Linked DNA regions of Homo sapiens. The protein of the gene in region 1 purifies or fractionates together with the protein of each later gene. This does not show direct contact. Each region holds a gene or a part of one and is shown in the gene's direction. Other genes may lie near its edges. The genes, in order: ITGA3, CD9 and ITGB5.

Region 1 (7,540 bases):
TCAGCCCTGCTCCTGCTCAGCCCACTTCTTGGCCAAATTATTACAGTAGCTGCCTTCCCCCACAACCCAGTCTGTCCTGGCAAAGTCAACTTCATGTGGCAGCCAGAATGTTCTGACAGCCCCCTTTGTCCCACAAGCACCACCCCTAACATACAATGCAAAGTGGGTTTAGCCTGTTTAAATGTGAGAGCAACCAGAACATGAGGCCACATCCTGGCCTCCTCTAAGTCATCCCCGGGTTGGGACTCAGCCCAGGATTGGTACATAGTAGGCTGTCAATGAATGCTTGAGCCTGGCAGATTCTGAGCCAGGGGAATCGCCTGGACTAGGCCTGCATCTGGGCCATAGGAGAAGGAAATCTGATAAATCCATTCAATCTTCAGCACTCCTCCCTCCCTCCCTCTTCAGTAATTTGCATTTTCAATTCAAGTCAGATAGACCCCTGAGTCTCAGTCCAATAGCTGAGATTTGGTACACTTCGTTGAACAGATATTAGAAGGTTTGGGATACAATGAATGTAGATTGGGGAATAGTGAGAGATTTCTCTCCAGCCCTTTCATTTCACACATGGAGAAACCGAGGCCTGGAACGGAAGGTAACTTGCCCAAGGTGAGAAGGCAGAAGAGAGCTTGCATTCAACGGAGGGGCACACCATTGCAATTCCTTGTTATTTTTCCAGCAGCTGCCTGTGTGCTTCACGTCTCTGTGCTGATCTGCCCGAGAGGTGATGGTGTCCATTGGTGTGCTCTGGGGCTCTGGGAGAGTGAGATGAGGGCTGGGGAGAGGGCAGGTAGAGGAAGACTTGTGGGAACACAGCAAGCGCTAAATAAACAGAAGCCGCCTTTGTGGGATATTGACATTGTCATTGTTCCAGCTGGGAAAACTTCACCTGAACCAGGACCCAATTTTTCTGCCTCTCTTCTCCAGCTCCTTTCTTTCCCTGTTGTCCAGATACACCTCCTCCAGGGAGCTTCCATGACCCCCCAGCAGAACTCACCATTTGCATGTTGTTACGGTCACCTGCAGAGGCAGATGGATCCCATCCAAGGTTTGGTTTGAATGAAGACTGACGACACCACCCAAACACCAAGAGAGTATGAAAAGGTTTATTATTTACATAATTGAGGTCTCCAGGGGGAGCAGGGGCAGTCTTTCAAGCAGGTCCCAGATGTGTTGGGAGAGCCAGGAAGGAGACTGGCCTGGGTTTTTATTGTGGTTGAGGGGTGAGGGTTCCCTCAGGAAGGGGCTTGTGAATATTCCCCCTCAAACACCAAAGGAGGGTGCACCCAGACTTTCTTATCAGCTTGTCCAGGTGTAGGGCACAGAGAAGAGGGAAGGGTGAGGCTTAAAATCTGTCAGCAAACATCAACAAATGGACTTAGACTCCTCATTACACATATTATTCCTGTGTCCTTGTTTCTCTGTCTGTCTGTGTGTTTCTAGGTGGGTCTCTTCCCCATGGGGGAGGGTTGACAGATAAAGAGTTGACATGATAAAGTCAACTGAGGGATGAGATGATCCTACAGACGACGGTGCCACTGAAACCAAAGAACCCTGAGATTTCTCTTTCTCCATCTCTCCAGCTGAGATCCTTCTAGTCTCCATGTCTCCCTCCACTCCCACTCCATCTCCCCAGACTGGTCTGACACTCCCCCACATTCTTTAGCTCAGGCCCTCCCCCTACCAGTCGCCCCTGCTCTGCTCCACATTCCCTCTGGACACTCCCCTGGAGTGGAAAAACCATCCCTCATCCCTTTCCGGCTCCCAGTCCCAGGATCGGACATGCTGGTCATTCCTGTTTGGGATGTCCAAAGAGATAAGGCCTGGCATGGGGCCAATCTGTCATCGCAGGACTCTCAAAGCTGTTTCAGGCAGGATCCTCACCCACATGGCGTTTCCACCCTAAGCCCCTGCCCTTCTTACCCTGGCTGGCTCCTCTTCTCCAGGAACATGGCAGAGGACTCAGGAGCCAGGCAGAGAGCAAAGATCACTGTTCAACTTCCATCCAGGTCAGCTTCCTGTTCCTTGACCCCACATGTCTTCTAATCCCTGCAGGCCCTGGGCCACAAAGCAGACCATGAGAGAGGCTGGGTGGCTCTGGAAGTCAGAGGTCAGGAACAAATCCTGTTCTAAGGGCCGTTAGAGACAAGTGTCTTCTCCCCAAACACCACAGAGAAAGCTGTTATCACAGCTGCTTTTGTTTAGGCATGTCTAGCTGTCTGACAACCATCTGCCTGGAGTTTGTCTTCTTAAAGACACGGTTGTGGTCAGCGGCTTCAGTCCTAGCTCTGCCTCCCATAAAATTCAGATCTTGGACAGGCAGGTAACCTCCTGAGGCTCTGTTTTCTCCTAAGTCAAATGAATATCATAATCCCCACCTCACAGGGAGGCCAGGAGGATAAAATGAGCCTGCTTGTGAAATGATTTGTAAACTGTAAAGCTAGGCCAGGACCCTTTCCCAGGCTCTGAATCTAATTTTGTACTCATAATTCTTATGAGTACAAAATAATTTTATTCTTAAAGAGCACCCCAGATTGCACAAGCTTCAGGACCCACCAAACTTGGACACGCCCAAAGTAGTGTATAAATGTTCATTATTAGCATAAGTAGTTAAGGGCTCCAGGGTCAGATAACACAGGATGAAAATCCTAGTTGTGTGACCTCTGCCAAATTGCCTAACCTCCCTGAGCCTCATTTTTCTCGTTTTAAAACAGAGATAACACTTCAAAGATTGTTGTGAGGATTTAACATTTGTGAAGCATTTAGCATAGTTCCTGCTGCGTATGTGCTTAATACATGGTGTTTTGTTCTTATTATTTTAAGAATAGATGGAGAAAAGAATGCTCGGGGAGGCCAGGCAGGGTGGCTCACGCCTGTAATCCCAGCACTTTGGGAGGCGGCGGGGTGGATCACGAGGTCAGGAGTTCGAGACCAGCCTGACCAACACGGCGAAACCCCGTCTCTACTAAAAATACAAAAATTAGCCGGGCATGGTGGTGGGCGCCTGTAATCCCAGCTACTCAGGAGGCTGAGGCAGGAGAATCGCTTGAACCCCGGAGGCAGAGGTTGCAGTGAGCGGAGATCGCGCCACTGCACTCCAGCCTGGGAGACAGAGCGAGACTCCGTCGTCTCAAAAACAAAACAAAACAAAACAAAAAAACAATGTTCCGGGGAAAATGGGTCTCTGAGCTGCAATAAGAGAAATGTGAGTTAGATCCAAGAAAGTACATAGTAACCTCTTTTTTTTTTTTGAGACGACGTCTCACTCTGTCACCCAGGCTGGAGTGCAGTGGCGCGATCTCGGCTCACTGCAACCTGCGCCTCCCGGGTTCAAGCGATTCTCCTGCCCCAGCCTCCCAAATAGCTGGAACTACAGGCGCCCGCCACCACGACCGGCTAATTTTTGTATTTTTTTAGTAGAGACAGGGTTTCCCCACATTGGCCAGGCTGGTCTCGAACTCCTGACTTCGTGATCCGCCCTCCCCGGGTTCCCAAAGTGCTGGGATTACAGGCGTGAACCACTGCGCCTGGCCAGAGTAACCTCTTGAAGTTCCCTTTCGATTTGATTCCTTGGTGGAGGAGACCTTTAGTCTCCGCCCACTTACTGCCACCTGGCCCTACCCACCAAACACCTGATGGGTGCTGACGTCCGAGCCCAGTCTCCAAACACTCTGTTCGAGCTTGGGTGGGAAGAGGGAGCCTCTGGGATTCTGCTGGGCTGGGCCCTGAAGGCAGGAGTGGACGAGAAATGGATACGGTCTAGGCTCAGCTTCCCGGCTACGCAGTGCGTTCTGTGAAGGACGGACTCATTTCTACATTGACAGTCTTAGCCTTTGATACCAGAAGTCGCAGCACTTAGGGGGAAAAATGCTTTTTGGTAATTATAATTAGCGACATTTGGTTGTTACCACTGCTAAATATGTCTGTCTTTGCTGAGGAGCCAATCTCAGCTCGGATCAGGGTGAGTGGATAGGAGAAATAAATCTCGGCAAAGACAGCGAGGGGCCTGAGTGCGAGGAAGAACTCCCAGAGACCGCCAGCCACCTCTTGGGGACTCACAGCGCTGCGGAGGCGAGTCCAGCATTCTAGCCAGCCGCGCACGGACGTCGGTTCCCAGATGCGCCAATGCCAGGTCTCTCCAGCCCGGCTGGCCTTTTCAGCAGCAGCAGCAGCAGCCGCAGGAAAGCGGCCAGACAAATCCCACCCCCGGCCCCGCCCGTCACATCCATCTTGCTCCCCAGGCGACGCTTTCTCGGAGAAGCGAGGGGCGGGGAGGGGAAATCTAAGCCTTTGGGGGTTGCCGACAGGTGTTTGGGGGAGAAGGCGGAGCTGGGGTAGGGAGGATGAGGAGGGAGGGGCGGTGCTGCCCCTTTAAGAGGAGGCGGCCGAGCCGGGATCTTTTTCTCTTTCCCCGGAAGGAAAGCGCAGCCCGGGCTGGGCTCGCAAGGTGGGGAGGTGCGGGACTGGGCGTGGGGAGGCGGGGCGCGCGCCGGGGGACCCCTCCCTCCTGTCCTCCTTGCGGTCGACCGGTGCGCTTGCCAGATCCGCCGCGAAGCCGGGATCGAAGGCGACAGCGCGGCCAAGGGGGCGCGGCCGGGACAAGCTGGGGGCCGGTTGCCCGGGGCAGGGACGGCGGCGACCCGGCCGCTGGGGAGGCAGGAAGATAGACCCACGGATCTTAGGAAGGGATCCGAGAGCGCAGCTGTGAAACTGGCTGGGGCTGGGGGCACGAAACCGATCAGCGCTACGGAGCGCAGCGGCCGGCGGGTTCCAGTGTCCTCCGGCGGCGCGGGGAGCAGGTGAACAGGTCCTCACGCCCAGCTCCGCGCCCTCACGCGCTCTCGCCGGGACCCCGCTTCCGCTGGCAGCCATGGGCCCCGGCCCCAGCCGCGCGCCCCGCGCCCCACGCCTGATGCTCTGTGCGCTCGCCTTGATGGTGGCGGCCGGCGGCTGCGTCGTCTCCGCCTTCAACCTGGATACCCGATTCCTGGTAGTGAAGGAGGCCGGGAACCCGGGCAGCCTCTTCGGCTACTCGGTCGCCCTCCATCGGCAGACAGAGCGGCAGCAGCGCTACCTGTAAGTGAAGCTGGAGGGTGTGGGGTGGGAGCGAGAGAGTGTGCGAGCGCGGGATGCGGGTCCGGAGCTGAGTCGGAGCCCAGGGCAGCTGGCCCTTGGGAGCCAGGATTAAGGGGCGGCCCTCTGGCTGCTGGGGGTTGGCGGGAAGTGGAGGATTGGGTGTGGGGTCGGGCAGTAATCATTGGCAAGTGCTGACGGGGCCAGAACCTGTCTGGACGCCACCCCTCCGCCCTTTAGATCTCTCATGAGAGCGGAAGTGGGGTCCCGGTGGCTGAGTCCTCTCCCATTCTGTGAACCGAGTACCCAGCACTAGCCTGTTCTCTCCAGGGCTGGGAGCTGGGGTAAACTGCAAGATAAACACCCAGCGGACTCCCCCCTTCCCGTACGCTTGGGGGAAAAATGAGCATATACATTTAAGCACCTCGCTGGTAGTCTGCGGCCACGCCAGCCACACCCTCTGCAGAGCCAGACTGGATGGCCTTCTCAACCGCTGGCTTGGCGGATGGAGGGTGAGGCGATGGGTGAGTCTGGGCGTTTGGAGCTGTCCATACGCTCCCTCTGACGCCTTGAGGATAGGGGCGGTGAAAGAGAGAGGAGGACTTGTCCCAACTCTGGCTGGGTCTCCTCCTGCCCACCCGCAAGCAGTGGCACTCTCCCCGCAGACATCTTCCCTGCATTCCACAGATTCGTGTTGGATCTTCAACCCTGAGTGTGTTTGTTTTGGTTTGAAGAGGGAAACAGTGTTTTTCTCTTTCTTCTGTTCTCCTTCCCCAACAGCTGCAAGGAGGAGGGGAAGAGCTATGCACAGTGGAGGAAGGAGGAGGAGGTTGCACCCAGCCTCCTGGGTCCCCCTCACTCCACCAGACGCCCTCATGCCCAGGAGCATGTCCAGGCTTCAGAGGTCTCTCTGCCGTGGCCTCAGAGCGCGCGGAGGTTGGCGGTTGGGGGAGGTGAAGCTGTCCAAAGAGGGACGGTGTTTAGGACAGGTTAAGCAGGTACCATCCACCACTTTGGGCTGGGCGATCTGCCAGGCATCTGCCCCCACCTAGCCTCTGCCCCCACCTGGCCTCTGACCCCACTGAACAAGAAGACGTGGTCACATCCAGGGTACACTGGAAAATCTCCCTGCTCTGGCTGGGGCCTGCAGAGCTTGAGGAAGTTTAGAATGTCCAAAGTCCAAACTCTGCCCCCGCCTTGGTTCTGCCCTCCTGACCCAGCCTACCTACCTGGACTTAACCTCAACTCCATCTTGCTCTTGCAGAGGCTAGGGCTACCACACCCTTCCCAGCCTGGCCCCAGCAGCTGCCACCTGGCCTTAGCCAACCCTCTATCTTTTGGAGATCCTGAGCCACCATGAGCACAAGTTTCTACATCAGCTCTTTCTGCCCTAACTGAGAAAAAGATTTTCAGACTTTCAATGCCAAATCTGCATGATATAAGATAACATAGGTAAAGAGATCAGACTGGAAAGAAAGAGTCAATAATGATTCCGCAACCCTTTTGCCTGGTGACCTTGAGCAAGATATTTCCCCTCCCTGGGCCAGGTTTCCCCCAAAACGGGTTGGACCTGGATCTAGTGCTCTTTCCCACTGCTGCTGGCCTGTGAGAAGCAACTTGATATGGTAGAGGGAGAAGAGGCTTGGAGGTCCCATGGCCAGTGTCCTGTCTCAGATCTGTTACCAATACCTGAACCTGAATTTCCGCACATGTTGGAGGGAGGGGAACAGCATGCCTTCTGCTGGGATGTTAGTGGGGCTGTAACGAGATAAAGTGCGTAAAATCCTCTGCACATGTGCCTTTCTCCAAGGAGCACCTGAAGGCTCTTGCGCTGAGGCCAGAACCTGGATGCATCCTCATTACCCATGGGCCCCGCCCAGGGTGGCTGAGCAAAGGGGTTCTACTTTTCTGTCTGGGAAGCTGGAGCTGGCATTCAGCCTGCCAAGAGCCCAGAAGGTTCTAAAGCTAATGAACCTCTGAGGGGCAGTTCTCTCCCTTGAGTATCCTCAGTCTTTCCTAAGGGTGGTTCTGTGTCTTGGCCCTTCTCTTCATCTCACTAAATTCGACCCCTCGGCCATTTGGGAGAGCCAGCTGGGCTTAGCTGCAGCCAGCTGTGTAGCCAGATGCAAACAGCTGCCTGAGTGCACAACTCAGAGGAACTAACTAGTAAGACGAGCTGCAGCCTCATATTCTGTTAGCCTGAAAGTCTCTTTGGAAAAGTGGGATGGTTCGTGGTCTTGGACAGGCTCTTAAACTGGGGTTCGTAGAAGGTTTTCAAGAGATGCAGGGACTCCCTGAAAGTGTACCCAAAATCGTAGTATTTGTCCACTGCCCTGGGGGTGGGAGGAGGGGAGAGCACAGCTTTCTTGTTCTCCATTCATAAGGCCTCAGAAATGGTTAGAAACCCAGGGGTGGGACCCTCTTTGCTGCCCCATCACCTTCATCTCTGGACTGGGGTTCCTGGTCC
Region 2 (11,004 bases), on another chromosome or scaffold:
ATAGATGGATGTAGAAACAGGTGCATGCCACCAGAGTCTTGTAACAAAAAAGTGCACTTGGCCAGGCACAGTGGCTCATGCCTGTAATCCCAGCACTTTGGGAGGCTGAGGCAGGAGGATCGCTTTCATCCAGGTTCAAGACCAGCCTGGGTAACATAGTGAGACCCCCATCTCCACAAAAAAATAAAAAATTAGCTGGGCGTGTTGGCATGCACCTGTGATCGCAGCTACTCAGGAGGCTGAGATGAGAGGATGGCATGAGCCTGGGAGGTCAAGGCTGCGGTGAGTCATGATTGCACCACTGCACTTAGCCTGGGTGACCTAGTGAGCCCTGTCTCAAAAAAAGTAGAAAAGAAACAAATGCACTTATTCCCCCTGGAGCTGGTCACTGAGGTCCCCACAAGCCTCCTTAGGGAAATCTTCTAAGATTCACTCCTCCCCAGAGCTGAAGGGGTGGTTGAACAGTTTTTCCAATTTGCAGAGACTGACTTCCCCCAGTGCATCAGTCACCATAACACACACCCCAGTGAGGACGGCATATAGGTGTGCTCCTTCCCAACCCTTGACTTGCTTTAAAAAGACCCTGCTGGCCGTGGGCACCCCTCCTCCTGTGTTGCCACCCACCCCAGCAACCACCCAGCTGCCACGCTTAGCTTCTTTCTTTCACCAATCCCTGGCAGCAGAAAAGTATGCGGGAAGGCAGCTGGCCTCACCCACCCTTGAACTTTGGGAGTTTTCCTCTCCCCTCCCAGGTACAGTCTCTCCCGGCTGGTGTGTTGGTTAGTCCTCAGCTGTCTGCCTAGACTGCATCCAGGTTTGGGACTGCAGGGAAACACAGACTGCCACAGTGTGCCTCCCTACCCCCATCTGCCCCATGGCATATGCAGGAAGCTGATGCGAGGCTCACAGGGCCACTGGTATCTACTCTGTCTGTGGCCTGCTGGCCTGCAATCTGTCCGTACTGTCCTCAGCCTGCCACCCCACTCGTATTCAGAACCCCCTATGCCTGGCCCCAGCCTAGGTGCAGCTGATGACCTATGTAGTCTGAAACAGAAATCACTCACACTGGAAATGTTTGGAATGACTTTTGAAGATCATGCAGTCCAGCTCTCTTATTCATAGTGAGGCAGCAGAGGAAGAGAGATGGGGTGATTTACCCAGGATCGCAGAGACAGAGCCAGTATTACAATTCCTGGGGCCCCTACTTTACTTCTGTCCTCTTCCATCTTCATCAGAGGCAGGAAGATGGGCAGTAGCTATGTTTTCCTGAATTACTGTTCATTTGTCCTGTATCTGGGTCCCTGTGGAGATGAAGCCCTCATCCCTAGGAGATGATGTAATGAAAAGGAAGACTGTGGTCGGTCCACTTGTGCAGAGTGTTAGTCTTTAGAGCCTTTCTTGTTCTAGTCCCATGATGTAGCCAAGAGCAGGAAGCATTGTCCCCACTGTACTGATGATCAGGAAACCATTTCCCAGAGAGGTTAGGTGACTTATCCAAGGTGATGCGGCAGGGTGGTCTCAGAACTAGGTTACTTTACCCAACTGGTTTTGGCTGCTGAGTGGGAATGGGAGAAGGGTGGGAAGAAGCTCCCAAGACTCCCTTAAGGAAAGGTGTAACCTAAGGGAACTGCTTGGGTGATTATGTTGTCACCACGTCCGTTTCTCTCTTGAGACCAGACATTTATAAACTTGGCATTCGGAACCTGATGTGGGCCTTGAAAAGCAGGAATTGTGAGGCCAGTGCCCAGCAGCACTTTGCACAGAGGCTGCTGAGAGGGGGTGTCCAACAGGCATCCAGAGAGAGGCCAACCTCAGTGGAGTAGGATGGTTATTGGGGGGCTGTGCCTCTTCCCTGGCCTGATCTCATCCCTGTGGGTCACTCCCTGATGGCCACAGCCAAACCAGCAAATCAGTCTGTTCTTCCACCACCTCCAGAACCGGCCCTCCTAGCTCTATTTTGATTGTTTCTACATTTCCTTCAGACCTCCCTGCCCGCCTGCCCACCCCCCAAAAAACAGTTGAGAGGGAAAACATCTTGCTGATGTCCATGTGGTAGACACACAAGTATTTCTCCAGCTGAAATGGGGAACCAGGGTTAGGGCCAGTCCAGTCTGACACATGCATGTCTGCCCTCTTTCTGGTCAGAGAAGGGGAGGAACTCCTTAGGGCAAAAGAGGGAAAGGTTTGGCTATACTGACAGAGCCCAATCCCCTCCCCACCTCCCTCAGCCCCTTTGCTTACTGTCTCTCATGCCTCGCTCACTGATGGAAACAGCAGTGTGGGGCTGGGAGGTCTCTTTCCCAAGAAACCATATCCCCTAGACCTAGGGGAGGCTGGTGCGAAACACAGAGACCTACACTGGGAATTCAGAGACCTGGATGTGAGCCCAGCTCTGTCCTCAACTCACTTTGAAACCTTGGGTTGGTCACTTCTGTGCTCTAAGCCTCAGTTTCCTCATCTGTAAAACAATAGCTTGGAACAAATGGTCTCAAAAGGTCCTTTCAAGCTCAGTCTATGAACCCAACACCCCTACACATACCACATACAACAATAGAACTCTCCTACACAACCCAAAATAGGAACCAATATTGGGTACGATGTATACTATGTTGGTGATGGTCACATTAAAAGCCCAGACTTCACCATGTGTAACAAAACTACATTCGTGTCCCCTAAATCTATAAATAATAATATAATAAACAAAATACAAGCCCTGAATTGGAAATGGGAGATGGATACCAAGGCTTGAGTCCTCAGAACTTAGCTTTTCTTGGCCTTTACCTCTGGAGCAAGAGCCCAGCTGGTGCTTTTCTTTGCTGTTGCTTCTCAGTTCCCTCTCCTCACCCTGGGTGGGGTCTCTCTCAGGGGTGTTCATTGCCCGTATACCTTAGTACTTGGCCTAGTGATCAAAGCACCAGTCCTGGGTTCCATGTCTCATCACCAGATGGGGCTGGTGACCACCCCACATGGTGCTGTGAGAGTTAAATGGGGAGTATGTGTAGTGCACTTAGCATAGTAGATTGCACCAGACATATCTTCCAACAGTAGCTATTGTTATTCACTAGTGGAGAGTAGAATGAGGCCCTGGGGAGGGTGAGAGCAGTTCTCTAAGAAGTGTGGAAGTCTAAACCGCAGATGTGGCCAGGAGGACCCTCCCAATCCACACACTGGCCTCCCTGCCCCTTCCTGTATCAGTGCCAACTTTGTCCTGTGCATCAAAACCCTGACTCCATTTCATGGGTTGCTACTGCTCATTTGGCTGCGGGAAGGCCCCGCTTCTGAAAATAAAATTGCCTGTCAGAGAAACCCTAAGGATCAGGATTCCGGATCTGGGCAGGGCATGGACAAGTTGGGTGGCAGTGGCAAAAGCCCCTCCCCATGGTCTGCCTTTTCCCCCAGAAGCAAGTTGCTGGGACTGTTGCATAAAATGGCTCCCACCTCCAGTGCCCAGACAGCCTGCGCTGGGGTGAAGCTGGCTACACGTGCACTGAAGCTGGCAGGCTTGGGGAGAGGTGAGCTGAGGCCAGGTATCTGCTTCCTTTGCCCAGGATTTTGATGGTCTCTCCCCTACACCCACAGTGGGTGTGAACAACAAAGACCCAATCTTTTGATGGTGGTGAGGATTCCTCTGCACACGCTCACACTCACGTTCTCTACCCCCTTCTTTTCAACGTGGCCCACAGCACGATTCCAGACCCTGCTCTATTGTGCTCAGAGGAAGCAGCTGCTGGCTCCAGCCCGAATTTGGGAGTGCTTTGATATGCAGCCCTCTCTGGGGCCCTGCCAGTACTGACTCTAGATGAGCCCTCTGCGGCTGCTGGGCTCACAAATCAGCCTTCTCACCCCTTCCTCCAGGAGCAGTGTTGGATGAGAATCTCCCCCTTACACACATAGATCCTGTGTTTGTTTTGTCTGCTTTTGTTTGTTTGTTTGTTTTTGTTTTCCTGTTCTGTTCAATTTTATAAGGAGGCATAGCTTTTGGACTTGGTTGCAGGGTTGGGTTTGGAACTTAATAATACCTTGGATTGACAAAGGCGCCTTTTCTTCTAAAGAACACAAACCTTGATGGTTCTTGCCTGGGTGTGGTTCTCACCTGGGTGAGCCTGGCTGTGAGGGTAGGGGGCCTGAGGTCACCCCAACCACAGCTTCTGTGGTCCTACTGGCAGCATGTTCTAGACAGACCTGTGTGGAGCTGGGGAAAGGAGAGTGGAGAAGTTTGAGGAAGCTGCATGTTTATGTTTTGTGTTCCTCCCTCCCCCAGGTTGGGGTCAGCGGGACTTTATTTGGATCCACCACAGGTCTTTTCAACCAAAGCCTTGCAGAAACAGGCTTTACCCCATACACACAGAAGAGCAACGACTTCCTTGTTAAGAGTCTGAAAATCTGGGTGAGAGCCTGTCAGACCCATGGCCTCAGAGAGCAGGAAAAATCCTTTGCAACTGGGAAGGAAATTCAGAAGACAAAAAAAAAAAAAAATGCAGGGGAATAGGGGGCGGGGGCTAGTCTTTATACATTTCTTTCTTTCTTTTTTTTTTTGGAGACGGTGCTCACTCTGTCACCCAGGCTGGAGTGCAGTGTTAACAATCATGGCTCATGGCTCACTGCAAACTCAACCTCCCAGCTCAGGCGATCCTCACACCTCAGCCTCCTGAGTAACTGGGACTACAGGCATGTGCCACTACACCCAGCTAACCTTTTAATTTTTTTGTAGAGACAGGATCTCACTATGTTGCCCAGGCTGGTCTCAAACTCCTAGGCTCAAGCGATCTGCCAACCTTGGCCTCCCAAAATGCTAGGATTACAGGAATGAGCCACCGCGCCTGGCCTACATTTCTTAAATTTATGTTTTAAGGCCTGACTACAGATTACTTGCCTGTTTTATTCCATGGAAAAAGTCATGCTGGTCCAGGGACATTCTCATTTTCCATCAAGTGATGGCATGCAGCCGTAGAAAGCAACATCCTGTCCCCAGATGAGATAATTTTTTTGTGATAATTTTATAATAATTGTATCTATCTGGTAATTTCCTCCCCCCGCCTCTCCAAAAATACTTAGTTGTGGATAGTTTTAAGTGCTATATCCTGTCATCCTAGACTAATACATCTTAACGTTTTTAGGGAAATTCCTTTTTAGGGAATTCCTTGGAATCAGTACGACCTGCCTCCAGAAAAATGTTATGTCTGTTTCTGGAGGCCCATAGACATTTTTTTTTTTTTTGCCTTTTTCTCCATTGCCCAGGCTGCAGTATAGTGGCACCATCATAGTTCACTGCAGCCTCAAACTCCTGGGCTTTACACAATCCTGGCCTCAGCCTCTCAAGTAGCTGGGACTACAGCACACACCACTATACCCGGCTAATTTTTTTGTACAGAGAGGGTCTCTCTATGTCGCCCAAGCTGGTCTTGAACTCCTGGGCTCAAGCAGTCCTTCAGCCTCGGACTCCCAAAGCACTGGGATCATAAATGTGAGCCACCACGCCCAGCCTGAGCTCACGCTATAAATGCCCCATATTGGTTTTTCTCCCTCAGTTTCCAGACAACCCCTGCTCTGTCCTGAGTCCCATATTTCTGCCATAAGAAGCAGGTTGCCTCACCGTTCCCCGGGGGCTGCAATGGGGGCATCACAGGGGACTTTGTGAAAGGCATTAGAAATGATAAATTCCCTAGTGATCAAGTGCAGCTCAGATGGGACAGCTGGCCTCCCACCCATCCCTCTGACTCTCAGCTTAATCATTGCCTAAGGAGTGGTTTTCACTCGGTTAATTTAATGAGTGCTCTGTATTTCTAGTACACACGAAAAATGCAACTGTATGATCTTCCAGCCAGGTTGGGCCTCTTGGCTTAGCTTTTCCCAGAGCTTGGTGCTTCATCTTTGTTCAGGAAGAAAGGAGGTCTGTCTCTCTTCTCCTTCCCTCCAAATGCAGACGGAAAGTCTCGTCCTCTGAGGACTTGCAGAAAGGAGGAATGTCTCAGGAGGGATCATTTGGGGAGCTGCACTCCCAAGGAGTTGAGAAGCAGCCTGGTTGAGTAACTGGGAAAGGCAAAGCAGCCTGACTTGGAGAGGGGCCCGGATTAATGTGATTCCAGAGGAGGTCCCGGTAGAGAGAAGTTTGGGGACTACTGACTTGGAGAAAAATCAGAAACCCGGGTCTTAAGAGCCCTTCCTCTTCAATCCTTAAGCCAGGCATTGTGCCTGAGGGAAGAAATAGTGGCTCTTATGAGCTCTGCTAGAAAAGTAACCCTTCAGGCCAGGCGCGGTGGCTCACGCCTATAATCCCAGCATTTTGGGAGGCCGAGACAGGCGGATCACCTGAGGTTGGGAGTTTGAGACCAGCCTGGCCAACATGGAAAAACCCCCTCTCTACTAAAAATGCAAAATTAGCCAGTCATGGTGGCAGGTGCCTGTAATCCCAGCTACTTGGGAGGCTGAGGCAGGAGAATTGCTTGAACCTGGGAGGCGGCGGTTGCAGTGAGCTGAAATCGTGCCATTGCACTCCAGCCTGGGCGACAAGAGTGAAACTCCATCTCAAAAAAAAAAAAAAAAGAAAAGAAAAGTAACCCTTCACAGCTTACCCAATGCACATCCAAGTTTCCAGTGACACCTCTGAGCAGGCTAAGCAGCTGGTGGCTCCTGCCAAGCCCTCTCCTCGGAACTGAGCTTCACAGCTTCAGGTGCCAGTCCCTTGCTGACACTCCCAGTCTAAGCTGTGTGTTAGTCTCCAAGTTCAGAAACAACACAATACATGGGTCATAGGAGAAGAACCTCGACTGAGGCTAAAAATACCATAAAGTTAATCAGGCAGTTTTATTAATTATGAATTTATTAATTCAAAACCTATTCAAGGATTTTAGTTTTTTTTGTTTGTTTGTTTGTTTTTGTTCTTTTTTTTTTGAGGTGGAGTTTCACTCTTGTTGCCCAGGCTGGAGTGTAATGGTGCGATCGCAGCTCACCGCAACCTCCGCCTCCTGAGTTCAAGCCATTCTCCTGCCTCAGCCTCCTGAGTAGTTGGGATTACAGGGGTGTGCCACCATGCCCGGCTAATTTTTAGTAGAGACGGGGTTTCTCCATGTTGATCAGGCCGGTCTTGAACTCCTGACCTCAGGTGATCCACCCGCCTCAGCCTCCCAAAGTGCTGGGATTACAGGTGTGTAGTTTAATGTCTTTTAAACCTAAGTTGATTGAATGTAGTATGATAATACAGTGTACTGATTTATTAAAACTCTAAATGAAATGATCAGCAAAATCATACTATTTGTGAACTCATCATTGCTTTTTTTGTTGTTTGTTTTGAGACAGAGTCTCGCTCTGTCACCCAGGCTGGAGTGCAGTGGCGCAATCTTGGCATACTGCAACCTCTGCCTCCCAGGTTCAAGTGATTCTCCCGCCTCAGCCTCCTGAGTAGCTGCGACTACAGGCACATGCCACCACGCCCAGCTAATTTTTGTATTTTTAGTAGAGATGGGATTTCATCATGTTGGCCAGGCTGGTCTCACCTCAGGTGATCCACCCACCTCTGCCTCCCAAAGTGCTGGGATTATAGGCGTGAGCCACCGCACCGGGCTCGTCGTAGCTTTTCAAGTCAATAGAAATCTGGTGTTTGAATCCACATCATGTCTTCCCTTGTAGGTGGGCAGTTGCAGTGTGTAGTGTGCATGCACACCCCAGATTTATGCCCAACTCCACTGGATGTTTTCTGGGTGGGGAGTCATCCATACCTCCCTCAGCGGCCCCGTTCCTAGAGACGGGAGGCCCTTCCCACTAAGACATATTCCTCCTGCTCTCCATGGTGCAATGTAAACATCTTCTTTCTCACAATGTGGGACTGTGGATTTAAATTTATTATTGCTAAGCTCAGATGTTTTAAAGCTTCCTGTCTACAAGCCTGAGAAAATCTCTTCATACTCTCCTTTCCTCCTCTCTAGTCAAATTGTAGCCCTGGCTCCCTAAGACACAACCCTTTAGAGACCCAGACTGCAAATTTCTTTTTTTTTTTTTTTTTTTTTCTGAGATGGAGTCTCATTCTGTTGCCCAGGCTGGAGTGTAGTGGCACAATCTCGGCTCACTGCAACCTCTGCCTCCTGGGTTCAAGCGATTCTCATGCCTCAGCCTCTTGAGTAGCTGGGATTACAGGCATGTACCACCATGCCCGGCTAATTTTTGTGTTTTTAGTAGAGATGGGGTTTTGCCACGTTGACCAGGCTGGTCTCGAACTGCTGACCTCAGGTGATACGCCCACCTCGGCCTTCCAAAGTGCTGGGATTACAGGCGTGAGTCACCGCGCCCAGCTGGGACTGCTCATTTCAAATAGAAATTAGATTATCTTCTAGGATGAGGAGGGACACTTTGGCCTTCTTTGTCATGGGAGGCTGGCACTCTCCTCTAGGACCCTGGGGTGTGTCTTGAGAGCTCGTGCCCAGGGCTATAACACAGAGAGGCCTGTGCTGATGTCATCTTGTTCTGCCCTTTGCTGGCAGGGTGGTTCTGGGGAAGGGCAGAGGCTCCGGGTCCCACTCTGGGGCTGTTTTCACGGGGGATGGAAGGACCATGGCCACTGAACGGGCTGCGGTCCCGTCTATGGACACAATGCCAATGGGCAGCTGCAACAGTGCAGCCAAGGGGAAAGGAGGATGTGCGAGTTGCCCTGGAGAGTCCCTTCCCAGAGCGCCGCCTCTGTCCACCCTGACTATATGACCAGTGGAACCAAGGGTGTGGCTGAAGCTCTCAGGACAAAGGCCAGGGAGAGGAAGCACCGGCTGTTTTTTTTAGACTCTCTTCGAGCACCCACTACCCCCACTGCCCCCAAGCGAGGCCAGGTGTAGGTGGCATCTCCAGCCCAGGTGGCCATGCAGCTGCCCTGCTGTCAGGGAGGAGGCGCGTCTGCAAGCTGCCTTCCTTCCGGTGCAGATGGGCTCCCTTGTGGCCTTTAAAGATCGAAAACACCACTTTGAAATGGGATTAGATATGAATGGGGGGGAAACAGGCAAAAGGGAAAAAATTCTGGCTTCAGAATAGAAGAAATGGATCAAAAACACAAACAGCTTAACAAAATAATTGAGAATTGGGGCTCTGCAGTCAGACCATTCTGGGTTCAAGTTCTAACTCTGCCACTTACTTGCCCTGTGATCTCAGTTGAGCAACTTTTTTTTTTTTTTTTTTTTGAGAAGGAGTCTCGCTCTGTTGCCAGGCTGGAGTGCAGTGGCGTGGTCTTGGGTCACTGCAACCTCTGCCTCCTGGGTTCAAGCGATTGAACAGCCTCAGCCTCCCAAGTAGCTGGGATTACAGGCACGCACCACCATGCCTGGCTATTTTTTTATATTTTTAGTAGAGATGGGGTTTCACCATGTTGGCCAGGCTGGTCTTGAACTCCTGACCTTGTGATCCTCCCGCCTTGGCCTCCCAAAGTGCTGGGATTACAGGCTTGAGCCACCGTGCCCGGCCCGAGCAACTTAACTTTTGTGCCCCAGTTTTTTCATCTAAAAAATAGAAGACAATATTACCTCTTTGGTGGGCCTATTCTGAAAACTAAATAGTTCTGGAGAAGTGCTTAGGGTGGGGTTGTGGAACATAGATAGCAAATATTTGAGTACTTGCTGCTAGTAATTAGGTGACCTAATATGAAGAAGGAGCTCCTGGCAGAGGGGTAGGGCAGGTTGATAGGTTAGACAAGAGTTTGGGGATCTTGGCCTCCCTTGCTGGCTTGGGGTTTGCAAGATCCCATGTTGGAGCAGGAGGGCCGTTCCACCAAGCGGTGCCGGAAGTGCTTTTAGCCGACCCTGCCACTCCAGGCACCACCTGGCATTGCTTGAAAACTGTCAAGGAAGGAGCATCTCCCACCACTCAGGGCCACGCACGCACGTGGCGGCCAACTCTGCAGATGGAATGAGAGCAAGCTGCTGCAAGTGGCTAGAGTGTGTCAGCAAGAGTGTGTGCAGTCATCGCCAGACAGCTCGGCGAGGCATACACAACGGAAAACAAATGTGTGGTATTCTGGAATTTAAAGCAAAACATCCAAAACAATCCCCCACATCAGATGATTTTGGTTAAGATCAGAATGCCTGCTTTCAGTGGAAAAGGGATTTATGGGCTGGCCAGTGTATGCTACGCGTCTGGCAAGCAGGCAGTGGAAACTTGAAATGGGATTTCTTGTTTAGAAAGAGGTTACCTTGGGCTGGGGCCTCCCTCCCAATCAGCCCCAACATCCTAACGCCAGTACACTTCACTGAAGCTTTTCTCCTCTCCAGGGCAGAGGAAGGGCTCCAGGTTTTTAAATGATGCTGACTTTGTCCTTGAAAGGAGGGAAGATTTCTCAACTCGAACTTGTTCAGACCAGGTAGCTGCCTAATTTCCAGAAAGATATGCTGAGAAAAAGCTTACGGAGTTCCTCATCCTCTGCCACACCCTGGAGAGGGGACCAAGCTGTCTCCCTTCTATCAGGGAGGAGACAGGTCAGCAAGTAACCGATCTCTGCATGGCATGTGCTGTGCACCGTCAGAGGAAGAGTGCTGACAGCTGGGTCACTCATGCCTGCTCTGTGACCACGGGCAAGTCGCTTTACCTCTCGGAGCCTGTTTCTTCATCTCTCACAGGGATGATTCTAACTAGCTCTCAGGCTCTAAGGCAGCCCACTAAGAATCAGAAGGGGCAGCAGGGCCTTGTAGTGTAATTCTAGTCTCCTCCCTGGGAAACCTCTCATGCATTGCATTACTGTTGCTCCCACAGGGAATGTTCTCTTGTAAAGTAATGGCCTGCACCAGCCTGAGGCCAGGCTCGAACATTTACACACAACGAGCCAGGCATAGCAAGGTGGTGGCACCCCCAGGCTGTAGCTGTCTAGGGCCACCTTCACCCTTCCACCCAGGAGCCCCCCAGCTGCACTAGCACCCCTGGAAAGGGAGGCCACAGAGTCAGTAGGCAGGCTAAGCATGTGCTTAGGGCACCAACAATGCAGGCAGCTCAAGGAATCCAGGGAAATAGGCACTTTTTTTGAGCTTTATCTTACAAGTT
Region 3 (11,004 bases), on another chromosome or scaffold:
ACCCCAGCCAAAGCCCGGGGCCACCTCCACTCCGGAGGGCTCGCCTCCTGGAACAGCGGGTGCACAGGGCCCACAGCGAATCCTGGAGTTCGCTGCGCCTAGGCTAGCCGCCTGCCTTTGAAGATGCAGCCCCCACCCTCCCCGCCCCCCGCCTGCTTCCTCCTCGCCTAGGCCACCGCAAACCCGAGGGGGCACCCGCGTCCCAAACCACAGCCCCACCTGGGACTTCCCTATTAAATTCCTTCTGCCCGACTTTATCCCGCGATTTGCACACGCTCGGAGCCTCACACTCCCCTAACTGTGGAGGATTCTGGAGCAGAGGACAGGGGCTGTGGAGATTGCCTTAGCCCGACGCTGCGGTGGGCTGGCAGCGTTGCAAGGATCCCTCGGTTACCTGCTCTAACTTTTCAGAGTTGGGAGATGATTGGACGTGGTAGTTTGGAGGCCCTCGAGGAAGGATGCACTTGTTTGGGATGCGGATTTTCTCCTTTCTTTTAGGAAATAATAGTGCTCTATTAACTTTCAAGCCGGAGATACTTGATTGCTCTTGTGAGCCAAGTGGTTGCCTGGCTGCCCGAAGGGAGGACTGTTCCCCCACGGTGTCTCATTTACATGAAGGCAGTGGAGGTTTAGGTTTAAGAGCGGAGGAGGGGTCTGAGCAAACAATAACTTCGTTCAGACCCTAATTCAAACTTAATACTGTAGCAAGGTTTTTGGTTTTTGTTTTAAATGGGAAAATAATCACTCCAGAGCTTGGAGAGTAGATGAGTGGATTCCAAACACCCATCCGGCAGCCAGTGCCCATCACGGATATTTTCATGGGTCCCTAGGGAAAGCGAGGAGCAGGAAGATGTAGCCTGCATCACACAGGAATGTATTGTTGTCAACGCTCCCCTGCTCCACAAGGACTTTCCTTTAGTTTGAAATTAGGCACTTTTTCTTTTTTTGGTGGGAACATTTTCTTTTAATACTTCTTAATAATATTAGTAGTTTTTAATTTTGGCAAAATAAGAAAATCTGACAACCCTATGTTAAGCTCCCCTTCTCTTTTTCTGTTTGTTTCTTTTGTTTTGTTTTTAAATCTTAGTTTTCTTTGAAATCCAAAAGTTCAGAAACTGCCAAAGGAGATGGCTTTTAAGTTCCTTTCCAGCTTGACATTCTGTAATTCTGACAAACAGAATTATAATAATAATTTCTAGTTGCAAATAATTTTTTTTTTTTGAGTCAGAGTTTCAGTCTTGTAGCCCAGGCTGGAGTGCAGTGGTGCCATCTCGGCTCACTGCAACCTCCACCTCCCAGGTTCAAGCAATTCTCCTGGCTTAGCCTCCCAAGTAGCAATGATTACAGGCGCTGCGACCATGCCCGGCTAATTTTTGTATTTTTAGTAGAGATGGGGTTTCACCATGTTGGCTGGGCTGGTCTTGAACTCCTCACTTAAGGTGATCTAACTGCCTTGGCCTCCCAAAGTGCTTCAATTACAGGCATGAGCCACCACGCCTGGCTGCGAATAATTTCTAAAAATACATTATTTTCCACTTGCATCTTGCTTTCTCTTTTTCAGAGTTCACGTACATCTTCACGGTGATGTCCATTTTCTCATATGGGCTCAGGAAGGAAGTGACTTGCCCTTCCCCTCTACTTGGGTCAGGAGTGGTGGACCAGGGACCATGGCTTTTGGTCCAGTGCCCTTTGTCCTACCGACTCAGCTTAAGGAAGAGAAAAGCACTGAGCATGGTGGTTCATTTGCAACTCTTTTGGGGTCCTGTTTTCCCATTGCCTATCTTTTCTTTTCTTTTTTTTTGAGACAGAGTCTCACTCTTGTTGCCCAGGATGGTGTACAGTGGCATGATCTCAGCTCACCACAACCTCTGCCTCTCAGGTTCAAGTGATTGTCCTGCTGAGTAACTGGGATTACAGGCATGTACCACCACGCCTGGCTAATTTTGTATTTTTAGTAGAGACAGGGTTTCACCATGTTGGTCAGGCTGGTCTCTAACTCCCAACCTCAGGTGATCCGCCCGCCTCGGCCTCCCAAAATGCTAGGATTACAGGTGTGAGCCACCACGGCTGGCCTCTGCCCATCTCTTTGACTACAGGTTTTGGTGGTGGTGGTGGTGGAGCAAGCCATGGCACTGGCCTCCAGAACTTGCTGCTTACCTCTTAGGGCCCTGAAGCTTCTCAGGATTAGCAGAGGTTGACTCACATCTGTGTCATTTCTCCTAGTTTTTCAGTGTTGCTGAATTAACTTCAACATTCTTTTTTTTTTTCTTTTTTTTTTTTGCTTCCCTTCCCTTCTTTGTTTTCTTGAAGCACTACAGGTACTTTATTCAGGGAGTGTTTCTGTCTTGCCACTAGGAACATTATTTGAAAGAAAAAAACCTAGTTACTCAGAGAAAAGAAAGAGATGACCCTCAGGGCCATGCCTGCCTGGGTGTTCCTGGACCAGTGGTTGAGTGCCTCTCTCTGTTGCTCTAACCCCACTTTCATCTCAGTACGGATTTCCAGCAGGAAACTGACCTTAGGTTTCAGGGGCTCATTTCAAACAAGTCCCTGGCCGGCTGACAACCCCCTCCCGTCCCCACCAAGGGCTATCTCCTGCTCTTTTTATTATCTTATGGCCAAGAGCCTTCAGACAGAATCCTAGGATGTGGTCTTCCCACAAAACCAGGGGTCTCACTGAGGTGAGGCTTTTCCACGCTGCCTTTGCTAAGACAGAGAGAGGAACACCGTCTTATAAAGAGGATCCTGCAACACCGCTGGAATTATGTGTGCTATCACATTCATTTCTTTTTAAAAAAGCAATCGAATGTTCTTCTAGTGAATGCTCTGCACATCCTAAGAAAGCCCTTTGTTTTATTTAGTGGACTCATGTTGGCAGCACCCTTCCTCTACCCCCAACCCCCTACCACATTTCCTGTGGTCTGTGATGGGGTTGTTGGAATTTGGCTGGGTCTGCAGCTCTCTGTAGGTAACCAGGCACAGGTTTAGAGCTGACAGGACAATGAAATACAAACAGTGGGTTTGGTCTGTAGACTGCTGTTTATCCTATGGATTTACATTTTAACTCCATCATCCTTGAGTTGGGGGAGCTTTTTATAAAGGGGATTGAGGCAGAAGAGGGCAGGGTCTAATTAGCTCTAATTAGTATTCCCCGCCTGCTTGTTCTCCATGCTTATTTAGCTACTGAGGCAACGGGGAATTAAAATATCTAAGTAGTTTGGCAAAAGGCCTTTTGTGCCTGCGTGGCCTGGTAACTACTTTTTCTTATTCAGCCTGGCCATGGAAATATTCTGAGATGCTTTAACGATATCAGTAATGTGGGACAATTACAAACTACTTAAATAATAGGGCCCCTTTCACATGGCAGTGTGCAGCTGGGTTAATGGGATAGGGTCTCTTTTCACAGGTATTTCCAGTTGGCTGGAGCCGAGGGCCTTGGAGAACTGACTGCCGTGGTTTGTTTTCCTTCTTTCCGGTTCGAATGGGATTAATGGCCTCTATAAATGTAAAGGAATGCTTTATTTAGAGGCACCCATTTGTTTCTGAGGCTTCTTGCTTCCGTTGAATGCAGGGTTTACTTCCCGGGCCTCATGGTGAAAAGTTTGCTCTAAGACAGGCTTGACTCATCCCCTAAGGCTGATGCTTTGAAGGCACTGCGGGGTACCCTGCCCTCTCTTTATAGGATTCCCTCCCCAACTCCAGCCAGACATTTTCAGAGCTGGTTGTCTCTTGTAGAGCTGGGACCTACTTCTGCAACTTGTTCTCTTTAGTTATTCTCAACTGTCCCTCAGAGTGATCCTGAGATCCAACTCAAGTCAGATCATATCTCTCTGCTTAAAACCTTCGAATGGTTTCCCAGAGTCCTGCCAGGCTCCACGAACTCTCCACCTACTTCTCTGACTTTCCTTCACCACTTTCCCTTCGATCCTTTGCTCCAGCAGCATGGGCCTCCCACTGTCCCTTCAGCGTGCCAGCCATGCTCCCATGGCAGCCCTTCTCCCTGCCTGGAATACTGTCCTCCAAGATATCTGCATGACCGGCTTCCTCCACCCTGCAACCCTTTTTCTAGCATCTCCTGCTCAGCCAAGTTTTCCCTGGCCGCTCCCAGCTAAAGCTGCAACCTCCTCCCTATATCCCGAGTTCTTTTTATCTGCTTTTCTTCTTTAATTTTTGTCCTTAGCACTCACCACCATCTAATGTAACTACATATCTTCTTCACTATTTCCCCTAAGTAGAATTCTCCCCCAGCCAGGATGTGAGCTCCGTGAATAAGGGAGTCTTGTTGGTTTTATTCATCTCTGTATCCTCCATGCCTACAACAGCACCAGGCACATATTTGTTGAATGAATAATGGATGAACCTGAATCTTGGTAATTGGGAGGTGAAGAGGGCGATGCATCCCGTCCTCAACTCCCTGTTGCCTTCCACAGCTAGCTTTGAAGTCAGGGACTATGCATGCGGCTTGTTAGGAAGAAACATCCTGGGAGAAAGAGATTCTGTTGGAATGTGTCAGGATTTTTTTTTTAATTGGAGTCTCACTCTGTTGCCCAGGCTGGAGTGCAGTGGTGCAATCTCTGGTCACCGCAACCTCTGCCTCCCAGGTTCAAGCGATTCTCCTGCCTCAGCCTCCCGAGTAGCTGGGATTACAGGCGTACACCACCGCACCTGGCTTATTTTTTAATTTTTAGTAGAGATGGGGTTTCACCATGTTGGCCAGGCTGGTCTTGAACTCCTGACCTCAGGTGATCTGCCCACCTTGGCCTCCCAAAGTGCTGGGATTACAGGCATGAGCCACCACTCCTGGCTTTGTGTTAGGATTTTTTGAGCTGGTATGGAGGCCATTTGGTCTACTCCCTGAGTTGTTTGCATGAGGAAGCTGAGGCCTGGAAAGGTTAAGTGACTTGCCCTAGGTCACATAACCAATAAGTGACAGAACAAGTCCTCTGATCTTTTATACCCAGTATATCCTGTTCTCCTTCCCTACATCCCTGGGTGGAGCAGAACTATCTCCTCCTCCTCCTGCTTTCATGGCCCATTCCATTAGAGAGACTGGGGGCTGCAGCTGGTCTGTCTCACCTGCTACCTGGTTAATAGCCCTGGTCTTATTTACCTGTGTCCCTGACACAGCCACAATGCTTGGTACTCAGATGATCCCTTCTCTCACCCCAGGATTTTAATGGGCTTAGAAAAACTTTATTTAAAAGATTTGGCCAGGCAGGGTGGCTCACACCTATCATCCCAGCACTTTGGGAGGCCGAGGCAGGCAGATTACCTGAGGTCAGGAGTTCGAGACCACCCTGGCCAACATGGCAAAATCCAGTCTCTACTAAAAATACAAAAATTAGCCAGGCATGGTGGTGTGCACCTGTAATCCCAGCTACTCAGGAGGCTGAGGCAGGAGGATCGCTTGAACTTTGGAGGCCGAGGTTGCAGTGAGCTGAGATCACACCACCGTACTCTAGCCTGGGAGACAGAGACTCTGTCTCAAACAAACAAACAAACAAACAAACTTTTACATATGTACTTTTTCTTTTCTTTTTCCCTTTCTTTTTTATTTTATTTTGAGATGGAGTCTCACTCTGTTGCCCAGGCTGGAGTACAGTGGTGTGATCTTGACTCACTGCAACCTCTGCCTCCTAGGTTCAAGCCATTCTCATGCCTCAGCCTTCCAAGTAGCTGGGATCACAGGCACGTGCCACCATGCCTGGCTAATTTTTTGTATTTTTAGTAAAGATAGGGTTTCACGATGTAGGCCAGGTTGGTCTTGAACTCCTGACCTCAGGTGATCTGCCTGCCTCAGCCTCCCAGAGTGTTGGGATTACAGGCATGAGCCACTGTGCCCGGTGTCTCTTTTATTTATTTATTTATTTTTTAAAAAAAGACAGAATCTCGCTCTGTCACCCAAGTTGGAGTGCATTAGCGTGATCATGGCCCACTGTAGCTTGAACTCCTGGGCTCAACTGCTCCTCCCACCTGGTCCTTGCAAATTGTTGGGATCACAGAAGTGAGCCAGTGTGCCTGGCCCTTAAAAAAGCCTTCAAAGAATTTAGAGCAGTTTTAGATTTCCAGAAAAATTGAGAAGATAGTGCAAAGAGTTCCCATCTACCTCACACCCAGTTTTGCCTATTATTAACATCTTACATTAGTATGGTACCTTTATTATAATTAATGAACCATATTGATATGTTATTATTAACTAAAGTCCATCAGTTTAGATTTCTTTAGTGTTTACCTAAGTCCTTTTTCTGTTCTAGGATCCCATCCAAGATACCACAATACATTGAGTTGTCATGTCACCTTGGGTTCCCATGGCTGTGACAGTTTCTCAGTCTTTTCCTTGTTTTTTATGACCTTGACAGTTTTAAGAAGCACTGGTCAGATATTTTGTAGATCATCCCCCTCTTGGGATTTTCTGATTTTTTCCCGTGATTAGACAGAGTTAGGTGATTTTGGAAGAAGAACATAGAGGTAATCAATTGCCTCTTTAAAAAAATACCTTTTGATAGGTAATATAGTCCCATAATTTTTAAAAGTATAACTCATATCAAGCGAGAAGCCTCTCTTTCTTGTTGCCCATCAGTGTGGGATATTTCTGTGACCCCCTTTTCTAAATAAATTGTGCCTATATAGTTCCTATTATAAAGCTAATAAGCTTTCTTATGTATCCTGAGGGTTTCTATGGATATGTTACGAATATCCCTCTTTCATTTTTATTCAGAGGCAGCACAAAACACAGTATGTATCTTGCTTTTTATTTTTAACTTAGCGATGTATTGGGGTAAGCTTCCTGTCAATACAGAGAGCATGCTCATTCTTTCTTTATAGCTGTCTAGCACTCCATTATATGAATTGGTGTTTTAAAAATAGAAGTCAGATCTGTAAGGCTGGTATTGTTGAGTGTTGTGCAGATGTCTGATGTTCATAAAGGCAGTCTTGAATGAGAACTGCTGGGATAGAACCTTCCTAGGGCATATTTGCATTTCATGGTAACATTTAGACATATGGCTATTTAGTTGCTGGAGTCTATACTGGGACTCTTTTGTCCATTGTGTGACAAATGTGAGGGCCTGGTTCAGGGTGTGGGGAGAAGCATTCCAGGGCATTGCCATCTTCAAGGCAGAAAGGCCATTTCAGCTTCTGTATTCACTTCTGTTATCCTACTGAATATTTTGGATCAGGAAATTCCAACTGCAGATGTATGTTTTAGTAGTAGTTGTCTGACCTTGGACCCATGGGGTGTACAGAAGTGGAGAGAGGCTGAATGGAAGGAGGCCAGCCAGGAGGCTATGGCAGGAATTTAGACCAGAGGGCCTGGCTTGGGTTGTTGGGGCTAGAGGTTGCAGACAGGAAGGGTTGGCTTAGGATAAACATTTCTTGCATCTTGAAAGGAGTGATCAACCGGATGCGGTGGCTCCTTGAATGATTGATGAAACACAGGGGTGAGTCAGTGAATTTTGGAAGAACATATTTTTAGATTACAGTTTGCAGTAAACACTGGGCTTCAGAGACGTGAGGCAAAAGAGATACATGGAGTTGCCACCGAGCTGGGAATAGTCACTATGCAAACAGCAAAGAAGATGAGATGTGGCTATCATCTGGGCTGCTAGTTCCTGTTTCCATGACCTAGACCTAACACTGACATTTGTGAACTCCGTGTGTTTAGTTTTTTATTCATTGCTTCCTTCCTTTTCAAAATGCTTATTGGTGCCAAATGACTCATCCAGCAAAGTCCAAACTCTGAAATATTAATAGGTGGAGAGAGGAGAGATGCCAAAGGGAGTGAGTCTGACATTACACATACCAGCACACAGCCTGTGGTTTTGGATCCTGGAGTACCTGTCTGGTACCTGGTACCCGGCACACTGTGAGTTCCTGGACATCAAGGGCTGGTAGGTCATTCACCTGTGCATTTCTAGCATCCCCCCAGTCCAGTGCTCAGCGTTTAGGGTGTGTTAAGTGCAGAGTTTCTTGAATTTGAATGTGTCCCAACAGCAACTGAATTTTAGGGCAATCATTTTGAGTACAAACGACTTTACTTTTCCATGTGAATATTTAATAATAACAGAAACAGTTAGTAATGCTATATGACAAATTGTTTTACAGTTGTTCATGATGTTTTCATACCAGGTGACTATCACATCCTTTGAGTTTCTTTGGTATTGTGTCCAATTAAGTAAGGGCTTTTAGGCTGGTGGACCAGAAGACCAGAGCTCAGTCTGATCTGCATCAGAATTGAGGAGCTCTTATTGTCCTGAGCCCTGGACCTCCAGCCCAAGTTCCCAGAGCTCATGATGAGGCTCTGGTAATTATAAAGTGTTGTTTGCAAATGTATGTGGCTTTGAAGCTGGATACGGTGGCTCACGTCTATAATCCCAGCACTTTGGGAGGCTGAAGTGGGCAGATCACTTGAAGTCAGGAGTCGAAGTCAGAAGACCAGCCTGTCCAACATGCTGAAACCCTATCTCTATTAAAAATACAAAAATTAGCCAGGCGTGATGGCATATGCCTGTAATCTCAGCTATTCAGGAGGCTGAGGCAGGAGAATCACTTGAACTTGGGAAGCAAGGTTGCAGTGAGCCAAGATCATGCCCCTGCAGTCCAGCTTGGGCAACAAAGCAAGACTCTGTCTAAAAAAAAAAATTATGTGGCTTTGATCAGAGTCCTACGTGAGGCCTTTGACCTCAAATTCCTTTCTGATAAAGGGGCTGTTACAGATCTCCAGAGGACCCTAGAGCTCAGCAGGTCACACCAGCCCTACATCCAAGATGGCAGAGGGACCACCAGGCAGGTATCCCATGTGGGCACTTGCTGGTCAGGACCCCGTCTGACCTCTTTTTTGTAGATAGGGCTCCTTGTTTCAAGTCACATACTCTCATTATCTTACATTTTCATCTATAAAAAGAGGCAACTTGACTAGCTCATCTTAAAACAATCCTAGCCCCAAGGTGCTATAATCTCATGATTTTATGAAAATGATTTTATATATCAAAGAAAAGGATATGCCACAACGAGCCTGAGTTTGTATTTGATAAGGTTGAGGAGAGGAGGAGCAAAGTTACTTTCATTCTAGATTTATTTTTTTTCCCCTGCAGATAGTGATTGCTGACAGGTACGGGGATTTGACCAAAAAATGGGACTGACATTTTGCAACTCTTTTCCTGCACACACTTTTGTTTTTAAAGGCTTAAGTGCCTATTTAAAAATCACTAAGTGAGCCAGGTGTGGTAGCTCACGCCTGTAATCCTAGCACTTTGGGAGGCCCAGGCAGGAGGATCACTTGAGCCCAGGAGTTTGAGACCAGCCTGGGCAACATGGCAAGACCCTGTCTTCCACCACAAAAAAAAAAAAAAAAAATTAGCCAGGTGTGGTGATGTGTACCTGGAGTCCCAGCTACTTGGGAGGCTGAGGTGGGAGGATCACTTGAGGCTAGGAGTTTGAGGCTACAGTGAGTTATGATCACACTACTGCACTCTAGCCTGGGCAGCAGAGCTAGACCCTGTTTCAAACAAAGAAAAAAAAACAAACAAGAAATCAAAAAAAAGAAAAGAAAAGAAAACTCACTGAGTGAGTGAATTCATTTAAAATTAGGAGGTTGTCAGCACATACACAGGCAGGTCCAGCTTCCCAGTAGGTTGTGTTCTCAGACCTTCTTCGTCCACATTTGGCCCTGGATGGCTTTTCCTGCTGAAGTGAGGTCAGGCAAGGTGGGTGGGTCCCAGCAGCCTCAGATCCTCCTGCTGTAGGCCTCCCTGGGTGAGGTAGATAAGGATGAGGAGGCCTAGGGTTCAGGGTTAGGGCTGGTGGAAACCTTTGTTCTCACCCCCTGTGGGTTCTCAAAGCCTCTCTTCCTTTCTTCCTAGCCTCTCAGCTTCTGCCTGTTTCTCCCTTCCCTCTGGTCCCAGCTACTATCCTTATGCCAATTGGTATTTCTTCCTTCTAAAGTCCCTGGGGTGACATGATAAAGCTTCCTTCCCCTACCACCACCTCCTGCACCCACCCCTCTGCCAGTCAGCAGTTTTGCCGTTTGCGATTTCTGTGAGTTTTTACTGCTAGTGACAAAGGAGAAGCAGGGAGTTAAAATTAGCAAATTAGGGAAATGTTCCAGTTGCAAGATACTGGTTTGTTTTTTTTTTAACCCCTATTTTGGCATTTCTTCTCTTTTACTTTTTAAATTTTTCTTTTCTTTTTCCAGCTTTATGGAGGTAGTTGACAAATAATTGTGTATATTTACAGTATATGATATGATGTTTTATTATATGTATATATTTGTAGTGATTACTACCATCCAGCTAATTCACATATTTATCACCTCCCATAGTTATCTTTGTGTCTGTGTGGTGAGAGTATTTAAGATCTACTCTCTTAGCAATTCTCAAGTGTGCAATACATTATTATGAACTATTTTCACCATTCTGCACAATAGATCTCCAGAACTTATTCATTCTCTCTAACTGGAACTTTGTACCCTTTAACCATCTCGCCTTTCTCCATCCCACCTCAACCCCACCAGCCATGGCAACCACCATTTTACTCTCCGTATTTCTGAGTTCAGTTTTTTTCCACTCCACGTATAAGTGACATAATGCAGTATGTCTTTCTGTGCCTCGCTTAATAGTGTCCTCCAGGTTCATCCATGTTGTCCCAAATGACAGGATTTTCTCAATTTTTTAAGGCTGAATAGATTACATTGTATGTGTATACCACTTTTTAAAAATACCACATTTTCTTTATTCATCTGTCTGTTGATTGCATATCTTGGCTGTTATGAATAGTGCTGCAAGGAACATGAGAGTGCAGGTATGTCTTTGACATACTGATTTCATTTTCTTTGACTATATACCCCGAAGTGGAATTGCTGGAACACATAGTACTTCTGGTTTAAGGAACCTCCATATCATTTTCCATAATAGCTGTACTAATTTACATTCCCACCAACAGTGTACAGAGTTTCCCTGGTTCCCTTTTATCCACATTCTTGCTAGCACTGGCTTTTGTCTTTTTTTT

Evidence for each region.
Region 2: the proteins of ITGA3 (region 1) and CD9 purify together in Homo sapiens (affinity purification with western blotting; 3 studies listed by BioGRID and IntAct, with this or other methods). This does not show direct contact.
Region 3: the proteins of ITGA3 (region 1) and ITGB5 purify together in Homo sapiens (affinity purification with western blotting; 2 studies listed by BioGRID, with this or other methods). This does not show direct contact.

The regions. Positions count from the first base shown.
Region 1 is NC_000017.11:50,051,570-50,059,109, forward strand, and holds the start of ITGA3 (integrin alpha-3 preproprotein), read left to right. Parts: upstream 1-4,540; 5' UTR 4,541-4,870; coding exon 4,871-5,076; intron 5,077-7,540.
Region 2 is NC_000012.12:6,201,698-6,212,701, forward strand, and holds part of CD9 (CD9 antigen), read left to right. Parts: intron 1-11,004. UniProt on the Homo sapiens protein: Integral membrane protein associated with integrins, which regulates different processes, such as sperm-egg fusion, platelet activation and aggregation, and cell adhesion.
Region 3 is NC_000003.12:124,875,488-124,886,491, reverse strand, and holds part of ITGB5 (integrin beta-5 isoform a precursor), read left to right. Parts: intron 1-4,631; exon of another isoform or gene 4,632-4,649; intron 4,650-7,802; exon of another isoform or gene 7,803-7,889; intron 7,890-11,004.